2 separate regions of the Homo sapiens genome follow, and region 1 is linked to region 2. A link means that fine-mapping ties the variant in region 2 to the expression of a gene that starts in the linked region. Tissue or cell type: whole blood. Region 2 holds a variant in brackets; the other region holds the start of a gene. All regions are shown on one strand. Distances are from middle to middle.

The links. PIP is the estimated chance that this variant, and not a neighbour inherited with it, causes the effect.
Region 1: ZXDC starts here. The variant in region 2 is fine-mapped to the expression of ZXDC in whole blood (TOPMed, PIP above 0.99).

Annotation. Positions count from the first base shown.
Region 1 is chr3:126,473,469-126,478,876 of GRCh38, reverse strand. It overlaps ZXDC (ZXD family zinc finger C), which reads left to right and starts at 2,986. Exons shown (of 10, transcript NM_025112.5): 1 at 2,986-3,918. The coding sequence starts at 3,012. RefSeq lists silencers at 2,717-3,226, 3,297-3,556 and an enhancer at 4,114-4,639.
Region 2 is chr3:126,439,212-126,444,619 of GRCh38, reverse strand. It overlaps ZXDC (ZXD family zinc finger C), which reads left to right. Exons shown (of 10, transcript NM_025112.5): 8 at 2,674-2,855; 9 at 4,893-4,988. Among named protein-coding and RNA genes, the nearest start is that of ZXDC, 34 kb to the left of the region's middle. RefSeq lists an enhancer at 2,742-3,377. The variant CA/A (reference allele first, on the strand shown) is at 3,204.

The DNA of each region.
Region 1 (5,408 bases), 34 kb before region 2:
TCTTACCAGAAATCGGGTCAACACCATGACTAGGTTTCTGACTAAATCCTATATACAGAGAGGGAAGCACACAGACAGACAGGCTGTCAGGGGTACAAAAGCGGCGGCTGCTCACGTTAGCTGAGAGAGGGGCTGCTGGGTATCTTGTAAATGGCACAGCAAGTGACCTCGCTTTATCTGGGTGGAGACACATCATGAAGTGGCCTTGCTTTGTCTCATGTCATTGTGTTTCAGTGACCTTGGCCTAGGTTGGTTTTCTGCGTGATGGTTCAAGTCTTACAGAACAGAGTGGCCCAGCTGTAGCACCCGGCCAGTTTCTGGATGGCAGGGGCTGCCCTTTTTCTTTCTCAGTCCCCTTCATTTTACACATGAGGAAACTGAGGCACAGAGAAGTTGTGATAGTTTAAAAATGGCTGCAAATTCTTTCCAGCACCTCCCATTGAGAGGTGGAGTACAAGTTCCCCTTGCCTGGGTCTGCAGTGTCTTATGACTTCTTTGATCACGAGAATGTGGCATAATCAATGCTGCGCAACAAGTTGGGCATGGTGGCATATGCCTGTAGTCCAGTTAATTGGGAGGCTGACCCGGAAGGACTGCTTGAGGCCAGTTGGAGGTCGCACTATGATTGCACCTGTGAATAGCCACCACACTCCAGCCTCAGCAACACAGGGATGGACTTGCTGGGTCATGTGGAGATTATGTTTAGCTTTCTGCAGAACTGCCAAACTGTTTTCCACACCGCAACGTTATACATTCCCACCAGCCATATGTGAGAGTTCCAATTTTTCTATATCCTGTTTTTAAAAAAATTACCACTATTTGAGTAGGTGTGAAGTTGTATCTCACTGTGTTTTGATTTGCATTTCCCTAATGATTCGTGATGTTGAGCCTCTTTTTATTTGCTTATTGGCTGTTTGTATTATCTTCTTTGGAGAAATATGTCTATTCAAACCTTTGCCTTTTAAAAAAGTGGACTGTTTGTCTTCTTGCTAAGAGTTCTTTATATATTCCAGATAGTAGATCCTTATCAGATATTCGATTTGCACACCCTTCTCCCATTCTGAGTTGTCTTTTCACTGTCTTATTGGTGTCCTTTTACCTGAGTAAGTTTTTAATTTTGATGAAGTCCAAGTTATCTATTTTTCTTTCTTGTGCTTTCAATATTATATCTAAGAAACTATTCCCTAATCCAGGGTCACATAGATTTACACCTACTTTTCTTCAAATAGTTTTATGTCTTACGTGTAGGCTTTTGCTCTAATTTGAGTTAATTTTTGCCTCTGATGAGAGATACACGTCCAAATTGGTTCTTTTGCATGTGGAGATCCAGTTGTCCCAGTGCCGCCATTATTGAAATGACTATTCTTTCCTCTACTGAATGGTCTAGGAACAATATGTTTTCGGCATAAACTGATATATATAATAGATGTATCCTATTCTTTTTAATATTATAATTTGTGTTACTTAAAAAAATACTCTTAATAATAAAGCATTCATGTATTTAACAAATATGCACCAAGAGTCTTCCTGGGCACACACAGTGAATAGGACACAGTTCCTGGGCTCCAGGAGCCTACATTCCAGAGAGGGAGAGACAGTGAAGGAGCAGGGAAGGAACTCAACAAAACAACGGGTGATGAGAGCTCTAAGAGCAAACAGATCAGACAGAGGTGGGAATACGGGACTGGGTAAGCATGTGCTTTGGATCAGAAGGGGCGCAGAGTCCTCCCAGAGGAATCAGAGATCAGCTGCGCCAAGTCTCTGAGGCTGGAACCAGCTTGGCTTGCTGGATGAACTGGGAAAAAGAGGTGGGGTGCGGGGGAGGGGTGGGGGGGGCAGCGGGAGAGTGGCGGGAAGTGAGGGCAAACAGGTAGGGGAGGGTAGACTAGCAAGGCCATAGGCGCCTTCGGGAGCAAGGTGGAGGTGAGCATAATTTGATGTGCAATTTTTAGATCATAAAACGGTGCCCCGTGGATGGGAGCGAGTGGAGCGGAGGGAGACCGATGACCAGCTAGTAGTTATTTTTCAGGTACCCAGGAATAAAGTGCGGGTTTGGATCTGAGTGGTGGTGAAGTTGAAGTGGAGGAGTCCAGATTGAATGCGGAGGTGTACGGTGAGGTGGGGGAGGGTGAGGACCGGAAACAGTAAGTAATTAAGCTGTTGCAGAGTGAGGTTGTGCCAAGTTTAGTAGGAAATACAGTTGGAAATACAGGCAGGGGTCCTGCGTATCAGGGAGGCCCCGTGTGCCGAGCAAGGACCTGGGCCAAAGCAAACGAGGTCTGTGCGCCAGCGGCGGCAGGCGAGCTTGCACTTAAGTGAGCTGGGGGTAGGCGTCCGGCCTGTTGGACAGGTTCGAATCCTGGATCTGCCGGCTGCCGAGTGACTCGAGCTCGCCGTCCCTGTTTCCTCACCCCTGGGTGACCGCGCACGCTTAATCAGCTCGGACAGGTACAGCCCCTGGGACGCAGTCAATGCCTACGAGAGGTTGCCTGTTAAGTGTCTGAAATATTAATACGATTCGAAGTCAAGACAAGCCTCGTCTTCCACGCCAGCGGGAACGAGAAGGAATCGCTCAGCGTTGGGAGCCTCACCCCGTCCCCTGTCGGTCCCGTGCCCCGCCGCTCGCCCTCGTAGGTGCCGGCGCTCCGCCCCCCGACCCCGCGCCCCGCCCCCCGACCCCGCGCCCCGCCCCCCGACCCCGCGCCCCGCCCCCCGACCCCGCGCCCCGCCCCCCGACCCCGCGCCCCGCCCCCCGACCCCGCGCCCCGCCCTAGTCGGTCCCGGCGCCCCGCCCCCGCCTCCGCCTCCGGCGCCCCGCAGCCCAGCCTCACGTCACGTCAGCCCAGCAGGCCTCGCGCATCGCCCGGCGGCGTCCGCGCACGCGCGGTTCCGAGCCGGACTCTACGCCGGGGCTTGGCGCGGATCGCGTCCCGGGGCGGCGCACGCACACCTGGGCGGGGCGCGGGCAGCTCTGCGTCCGAAGCTGCTCCGACGCCGTCGCTGGGACCAAGATGGACCTCCCGGCGCTGCTCCCCGCCCCGACTGCGCGCGGAGGGCAACATGGCGGCGGCCCCGGCCCGCTCCGCCGAGCCCCAGCGCCGCTCGGCGCGAGCCCCGCGCGCCGCCGCCTGCTACTGGTGCGGGGCCCTGAAGATGGCGGGCCCGGGGCGCGGCCCGGGGAGGCCTCCGGGCCAAGCCCGCCGCCCGCCGAGGACGACAGCGACGGCGACTCTTTCTTGGTGCTGCTGGAAGTGCCGCACGGCGGCGCTGCCGCCGAGGCTGCCGGATCACAGGAGGCCGAGCCTGGCTCCCGTGTCAACCTGGCGAGCCGCCCCGAGCAGGGCCCCAGCGGCCCGGCCGCCCCCCCCGGCCCTGGCGTAGCCCCGGCGGGCGCCGTCACCATCAGCAGCCAGGACCTGCTGGTGCGTCTCGACCGCGGCGTCCTCGCGCTGTCTGCGCCGCCCGGCCCCGCAACCGCGGGCGCCGCCGCTCCCCGCCGCGCGCCCCAGGCCTCCGGCCCCAGCACGCCCGGCTACCGCTGCCCCGAGCCGCAGTGCGCGCTGGCCTTCGCCAAGAAGCACCAGCTCAAGGTGCACCTGCTCACGCACGGCGGCGGTCAGGGCCGGCGGCCCTTCAAGTGCCCACTGGAGGGCTGTGGTTGGGCCTTCACAACGTCCTACAAGCTCAAGCGGCACCTGCAGTCGCACGACAAGCTGCGGCCCTTCGGCTGTCCAGTGGGCGGCTGTGGCAAGAAGTTCACTACGGTCTATAACCTCAAGGCGCACATGAAGGGCCACGAGCAGGAGAGCCTGTTCAAGTGCGAGGTGTGCGCCGAGCGCTTCCCCACGCACGCCAAGCTCAGCTCCCACCAGCGCAGCCACTTCGAGCCCGAGCGCCCTTACAAGTGTGACTTTCCCGGTAACCGCGCTCTCGGGGGCGGGCGGGCTGCGCGGTGTTGCAGGCAGGTCTGGGGTGCCACGTCCGCCCCACAGAGGGGCCTGCCAGACCTTAGCAAGCCGGGGACGCAGGCTCTTCGGGATTTGTATTCTAGCTCCTTCCATGTCATTCGATTTGAGATCTTGGCCCTGCCCTGCCGCAGGGATTCCGATGGCAGGTAGCGCAGATCACCACAGCTGCGCTTCCCAAAGGTGGCGGCAACAGATATCCTTAACCTGCTTGTGCTTGATGAAAGCGGCACGCATCTTCACAGAGTGGCACGGAGCTATGTGTCAGGTCTTTATTTTCCTCAGTCTCGTCATTTGTTTACGGGGTGCACACTCCGTGCTAGAGGAGCAGAGATGAATGTGGCCAGATTCAGGACCTTAACACGCTGGGAGGATAGCCACAGGTGTGCGCACATCCTGGCTTTTTTTGCCTTTTGCACTTTGATTTCCGTTGAACCTCACAGTTTTGTGAAGTTTTAAAAATTAGCCGTCTGTGAAGGTTAAAAACTGTCCTCTTTTACAGATGAAGAGACAGAGGCCGAGCCTTGTGGATAAAGTCCACTGCTGGTGGCTGGGCGCGGTGGCTCACGCCTGTAATCCCAGCACTTTGGGAGGCCGAGGCGGGCGGATTACGAGGTCAGGAGATCGAGACCATCCTGGCTAACACGGTGAAACCCCGTCTCTATTAAAACTACAAAAAATTAGCCGGGCGTGGTAGCGGGCGCCTGTAGTCCCAGCTACTCGGGAGGCTGAGGCAGGAGAATGGTGTGAACCCCAGAGACGGAGCTTGCAGTGAGCCGAGATCGCGCCACTGCATTCCAGCCGGGGCGACAGAGCGAGACACCGTCTCAAAAAAAAAAAAAAAAAAAAGTCCACTGCCTGTTCTTTCTCCTGTGTGTTGACCTGCAGTTGTTGGGAATGTAGGACTCCAACACAGTGAGCTCTTCACCAGGATGGGCAGCTTTCCCTGCTTTCACAGGGATAGGGTTCCTCCAGAAGGGCAAGAAAGGATTCCTCCCTGGAAAGGCAGAAGAATGGAGTCGGCTGGGTGGCAGAGCCCAGGTGGGGATTGTGGTCTGTGGTGAGGGCCCAGGAGGAAGGACCAGTCATTCAAACAGAAACTGGAATGTGTGCCTAGCATGCCCCTAACCTGTATATGCACACGGCTCTCCTTATAATGTCCTTAAACAAGAATTTTTAAAGGATGAGATGAGAATTATGAACGGGTTTTATTATTTTTTCCCTCGCATATGCCTGTGGACTGTCTTGCGCATTCCTCTTCAGAGAGAATGTGGCTTGAGGCCACTAGCTCAAAGTCTTTTTCAGTCATACACTCTTGGGAATCTGATGGTGGCTGTAGACCCTTTCCCTGCTAAAAGAGTATCATTCTGTGTATGACACTGGGAAGGTCAGGGATCCCGCCTGCTTCCAGGCATGAGGTCTCTTGAGGGTTTTGTGTTGGCT
Region 2 (5,408 bases):
TTAAAAGAAATCTGGAGAGATACACTATTCACTGCCTGCCTTAATTTATTCTACAGTGGTTTTCATATTATTATTATTTTTTTTTTTTGAGAGGGAGTCTCGCTCTGTCACCCAGGCTGGAGTGCAGTGGCATGATCTCGGCTCACTGCAAGCTCTGCCTCCTGGGTTCATGCCATTCTCCTGCCTCAGCCTCCCGAGTAGCTGGGACTACAGGCACCCGCCACCACCACTGGCTAATTTTTTGTATTTTTAGTAGAGACGAGGTTTCACCGTGTTAGCCAGGATGGTCTCGATCTCCTGACCTTGTAATCTGCCCGCCTTGGCCTCCCAAAGCGCTGGGATTACAGGCGTGAGCCACTGCGCCCGGCCAATATTTCTAATATAATAACATGTTTCAGTATTTTTATTTGAATTTAAAAATGAAGCCAGGCCTTTTATTAGAAAGCAAGCGTAATGCGACTGTTCTGGCTGCAGCACCGGCCCTGCTGCTGGGGCTTCGTGGGCAGGCAGTTCCCCCTCACTTGAATAAACTCAACCTGCAGCTGCAAAGTTGTGATGACACATGAGCATCTTATTTTAAAAAAGTTTTTAATTGACAAGAATAGATGCTGACCATGTCTAATTCTAGCAAGAAGTAATATTTAGACACAAATACATGAACTAACTGGGGAAGAAAACCACCAGTCAGTCCCACTCCTCTTGAAAAGCATTTTTAATATAATTTTGCTTTTAATATCATAATTATCTATCAAAGTTTCTGATATATTTTGTTTTGATTTGTTTTGCATTACTAATAATTGCAGTTGTAACAGTTCAAACCAAAAATGTTAATGCCTAGAAGTTAAATAAAAGTTAAGTTTATGTACATATTTTTATATGCTAGGGTGATAAAAGACTTGAAAGCATAGAAATGCATTCAGGTAAAATTCTGGAGGTAAGTGGGATAGTATACAAGCTCACGGAGGATATAGGCACGCTTCATTTTTTGCAGTTGACTTTTTTTTTGCTTTTTACAAATTGAAGGTTTGTGGCAAACCTGTATCCAGCAAGTCTGTTGGCACCATTTTTCCAACAGCATGTTCTCACTTCATGTCTATGTCGGTATTTGTTAGCAATAAAGTATTTTTAAATTAAGGTATGCATTGTTTTAGACATAATGTTATTGCAGACTTAATAGACTGCAGTACTAGGAACTGATGTGAAGTTTCCTCAAGGAGGGGTGAGTAAGTTTTGTGCCCCAGGCACCTCTCTTGCCCCAGACCCAGCCCTGCTCTTCTGTCTGAAGCAAGTAGAGCAATTAGAAAAAGAGAAACCAGGCGTGGAGAACAGTCAGAGATGATCCAGAGCGAGGGTTGCTGGGTTTTCTGGAACACTGATGGATGAACAGAAAGGAAGTATTTTGTAATGGAAGTGCATCTCCCTGCAGTGAGGGGGAACTGAATCTGTGTTACCCAGAAACCTCCTGGTTAGCATTTGCACTTCAAAGAAAAAGAGCCCTGAGGCACCCAGAAAAGACAGCAGGCTGTGCCTAAGTACAGAGGACCCAAGGTTTGTGCACCCAGTTGGCTTGCCTGCTGAGTGTGAAGCTCTCCGGGACCCAGGGCACTGCGGAAGACAGGAAGGGATCTGGAGTGAGGTGAGCAGGTCAGGGAGACAGCATATGCAGGGCAAGTCAGCTCTCACCCCATGGGCTGCTCAGAACCTTCCTGTCAAACAGCCTCGTAAAAACAGCCTGCCTTGGGCAGCAGGGTCACCCAATTGAATACTTTTATTAGGAATAACTTATATGATAGTCATTGTACAGTTGTTTTTTTGAAGCCGTTCATAGCTGGATCCCACACATCCAGGCAGGGATGTGTGGGCAGAGCAGTGACAGTGCCTAAACTCCTTGGCACTCGCCAGTCACTGTTCTAAGTTTTGATCACATATTTCCTATGAAATCCTCTCCAAAACCTTCCGAGGTTGGGACTAGCATTCCCATTTTACAGGTAGATAATGCTGAGGCCCAGAGCTTGAGTTCCTTTTCCAGATCCCTGGAGCAGAGTGGGTGGCGGGTCAGGGTGAGCCTAGCCGGGGTCTCTGCAGTGCACGCTCTAGGCTACCTTTGGGCCCTTTTGAAGCAGCTCTTGGGTTTGTTATGGGTGTTAAGATTTTTTCTTTTTTCTTTGTGCTTTACTTCATTTCTTAAGAAGCACATATTTGTAAAACCCATGGAGTAGTGACTTGGAAAGGAGCTGGACAGAGGCAGCAGTCCACCCACAGGTGGGGTATGGAGACCGCCCGCTTCCTTCCTATTCCATGATGCTGTGGCTCTGGGCTGTTGGCTGTCCTCAGTTGCGCTTGGGATTCCTGCCAGCCAGCAGCTGCTGGAGTTAGAGGATTCTGCTCTCCAAGAATTTGCAGCTTGTGTCTGATTACCGTACCGTCTGGCAAAAAAATACGTATGATGTTTTTACATTTTTAAAATCAAAATCCTGATGTTTTTTTGTTCGTATGGTTGTTTGTTTCAACCTCTTAACTCTTGATTTTTTCTGTTAAGTGATTTTACGTCTCTTAGCTGTGCAGAATGACAATTAATGGGAAGGCTGTCTTCCCCATAGTGAGACCTTGGTAAGGGCAGACCTGACTGGTAGATTGTAGATTGGGTGTGCTCGTTTTTATATTTCATTTTAGGAGCCTCACAGTCTACTCAGAGAAAAATAAAAGAAGGCAAAATGAGTCCTCCCCATTTCCATGCAAGCCAGAACAGTTGGTTGTGTGGGAGCCTCGTGGTGCCCAGCGGAGGACGGCCAGGACCAGCTCCAGCAGCTGGGGTGCAGTGCGGGGCGCAGGGCGTCCAGGTCCAGCTGGTGCAGGTGAGAGCTGGCCAGTCACACAGGCCAGCTGTAGGCGGGGTGGGAGGGTCACGCAGGTCTGAGCAGTGTGCGGCATGCTGCATCCCCTGCCCATCGCAGCACCCCCTGCCTGCCTGCCCCTCGTGCATCCTCCCCTGTAGACTGCCCCAAGTCCTGTCTCCTCACAGCCCAGCTCCTCCCTTTTTCCCAGCCTGTCCTGCATCTGCTCAAGCTCTGAGTGTTGCTGGGACCGTGCATCCACTTCCTGAACCTGTCTGTGCACAGCCCTGCGTCTAGCCCCAGAGTAGCCCGCCTCCCTGCCCGAGGCCCCCAGGGCTGTTTTGCAGCAGGATGAGATCTGTTTGAGGC[CA/A]CCCTGCCCTTCTTCTGCAGGGCTGGGGCAAAAGGGCTCCGCAGGCCGTCTCAGCCACCCCATTTCTAGGGCGGCCTGCTTGTGGCGCACTAGCAGCCTTTCTATGCTGAAGGTGGTGGGGGTCTTTTCAGTGTTTTTCTATTTTCTTTCCTACGAAACAGAGCCCCTCCAGGGCAGGCCCAGGCCCCTCCCAGCCTGTCCGGGCCACAGATACCTGCAGCTGTGGCCAGTTTCCAGGAGGTCTTTGAGCACACCTGCTTCAGCAGCCCTGAGCACACCTGCATCTTCAGTCTCAGTTTGAGGGGCTGGAATGGGGAGGGAAGATGATTTGGAAGGATTTGGGGAGAGAAGAGATATACAAGCCGGGGCTGTCTGGGTTTGGCCCAGGTGTGTGCCCCTCTTCACCACTCCACTTTGTAGATTCCCTGTGGCAGGGGATGCGGTTGCAGGCCCCACGGAAGTGCGGAGGGTGGAGGTGACGCTGGCTCTGAGTTGGGAAACAGGCACGTTTGTGGGTTCAGAGTCCTGGGAGAGTCTCGCCAAGGAAACAGGACCAGGCCTGGGGCTCAGAGAGGCAAGAGGAGGGGCAGCCTGGGCAGAGGTGGGCTGGGAAGGGGGCAGGGAAGAGGCTGCGGGCAGCTGGGGGTGGCCCTGTGCTGGTTGGAAGCTAGCGGTGAGCGTCAGATGGGGGCTGAAGCTTGTCTTAGAGAGGGGCAGGAGCACTGGTCCTTTGTTTCCAGCTTCTGAAGAGGTAAGAACTCCCCAGGAGCAGGGGCAGGGGGAGGGGGAGGACCATCCAAGGAAACACTGCCTCAGCTGGCAGGGCAGAGGTACAGAGTCAGGACCAGAGGCTTGGCAATAGGGAGACGGTAGGGAAGCTGGTGCCACCGGCAGAACAGGAGCAAGTAGGGGGTATACTTTTAAGAGATGCCTGATTAAACCTGGGTTTGAGTTCTTTTTCTGTCCCTTACCAGCTAGCGTAGTCTTGGTTACTTAAGCACTCCGGGCCTCAGTTTTGTCATCTATGAAATGGGAACAGTAGTGCAGACCTTGACACACAGGAGCTTCTCAAACAGAAGGAATGAGAGGTGCAGAGCAGCAGCACCAGGAGCTCCGCTTCGGGGTGTGAATGGCCATGGGCGGACATGCAGGTGCAGGACAGGCGAAGTGTGGGACAGATGAAGTTTCTAGCCTGGACTGTGAGGGGCCTGGCAGCCTCCCCTCTCAGGAGCCCCTCTACCTGCCCTGGTCCTTCCAGCTGGCCCGTAGGCAAGCTGGGGCATGCAGGGAAGGCCCTCTGTGGGGCCCGAGGATTTGCTGGAGAGCACTCTGGGTACACAAGGTTGGTGGGGGTACAGGGCGTGCCAGGGCACCTGCAAGGAGTTGAGGAGCGTGCCTTAGGAGGGAAATCAGTATTTGGGCTGACTGAGGGGAGGAGCTGGAGAGCAGAAGGTTCCAGGCCCAGCAAAAGCTGCTGGGATCAAGGTGACAGAATGAGAACCAGGTGGGAACAGGTAGTACCCAGCCCCCATAAACAATTCCTGCTGGGTCCTCGGGCCTCCCTTGGAATACAGGGGGTGGGCTGGTTCTGCCACGCATTGCAGCTGGAGGAGACTTCTCAGGTGAGACGAGGACCTTTGCTGCACTCTCACAGACATGTGACAGGCCTTTCTGTGTTGCCTTCCCAGGATGACCCCTCCGGCGAAGGTGTCCTGCCCTCGGCCCGCGGCCCAGCCACCTTCCTCCCCTTCCTCACTGTGGACCTGCCCGTCTACGTCCTCCAGGTCTGGATGCCTTACTGCCCTTTGTTTTTCTTATTGAGACTCGCAGAGCCTTCGACTTCCAGAAGCCTGGCTTCACAGCTGCAGGCTGGTCACTGAGGCCGCGTGGCTTGGGAGGCTCAGTGGGTTGGTTGCCAGGATGTCTTGCTGCCTTCTGGAGAAGGTGGGTGAGTGGAGCTCAGATCTGCAGGACGCTGCAGCTCCTGCTGGTAGACAAAGCAGGAGAAGTTAATATGCTCTTGAAAGTGTTGTGCCTAGGAATTCCAGTTAATTCTCTGGGAAGAGGGCTGGCCAGGGCCCAGCCTGTGGGAGAATAGACTCGGATGAATTCAGTAGTTTGCTTACGTGGTTAAGCTAAGGATGGGTGGCAGTGAATGATTCAGAGTTTGATATGAAATAGCGAAAGCGTATAGCTTATCACAT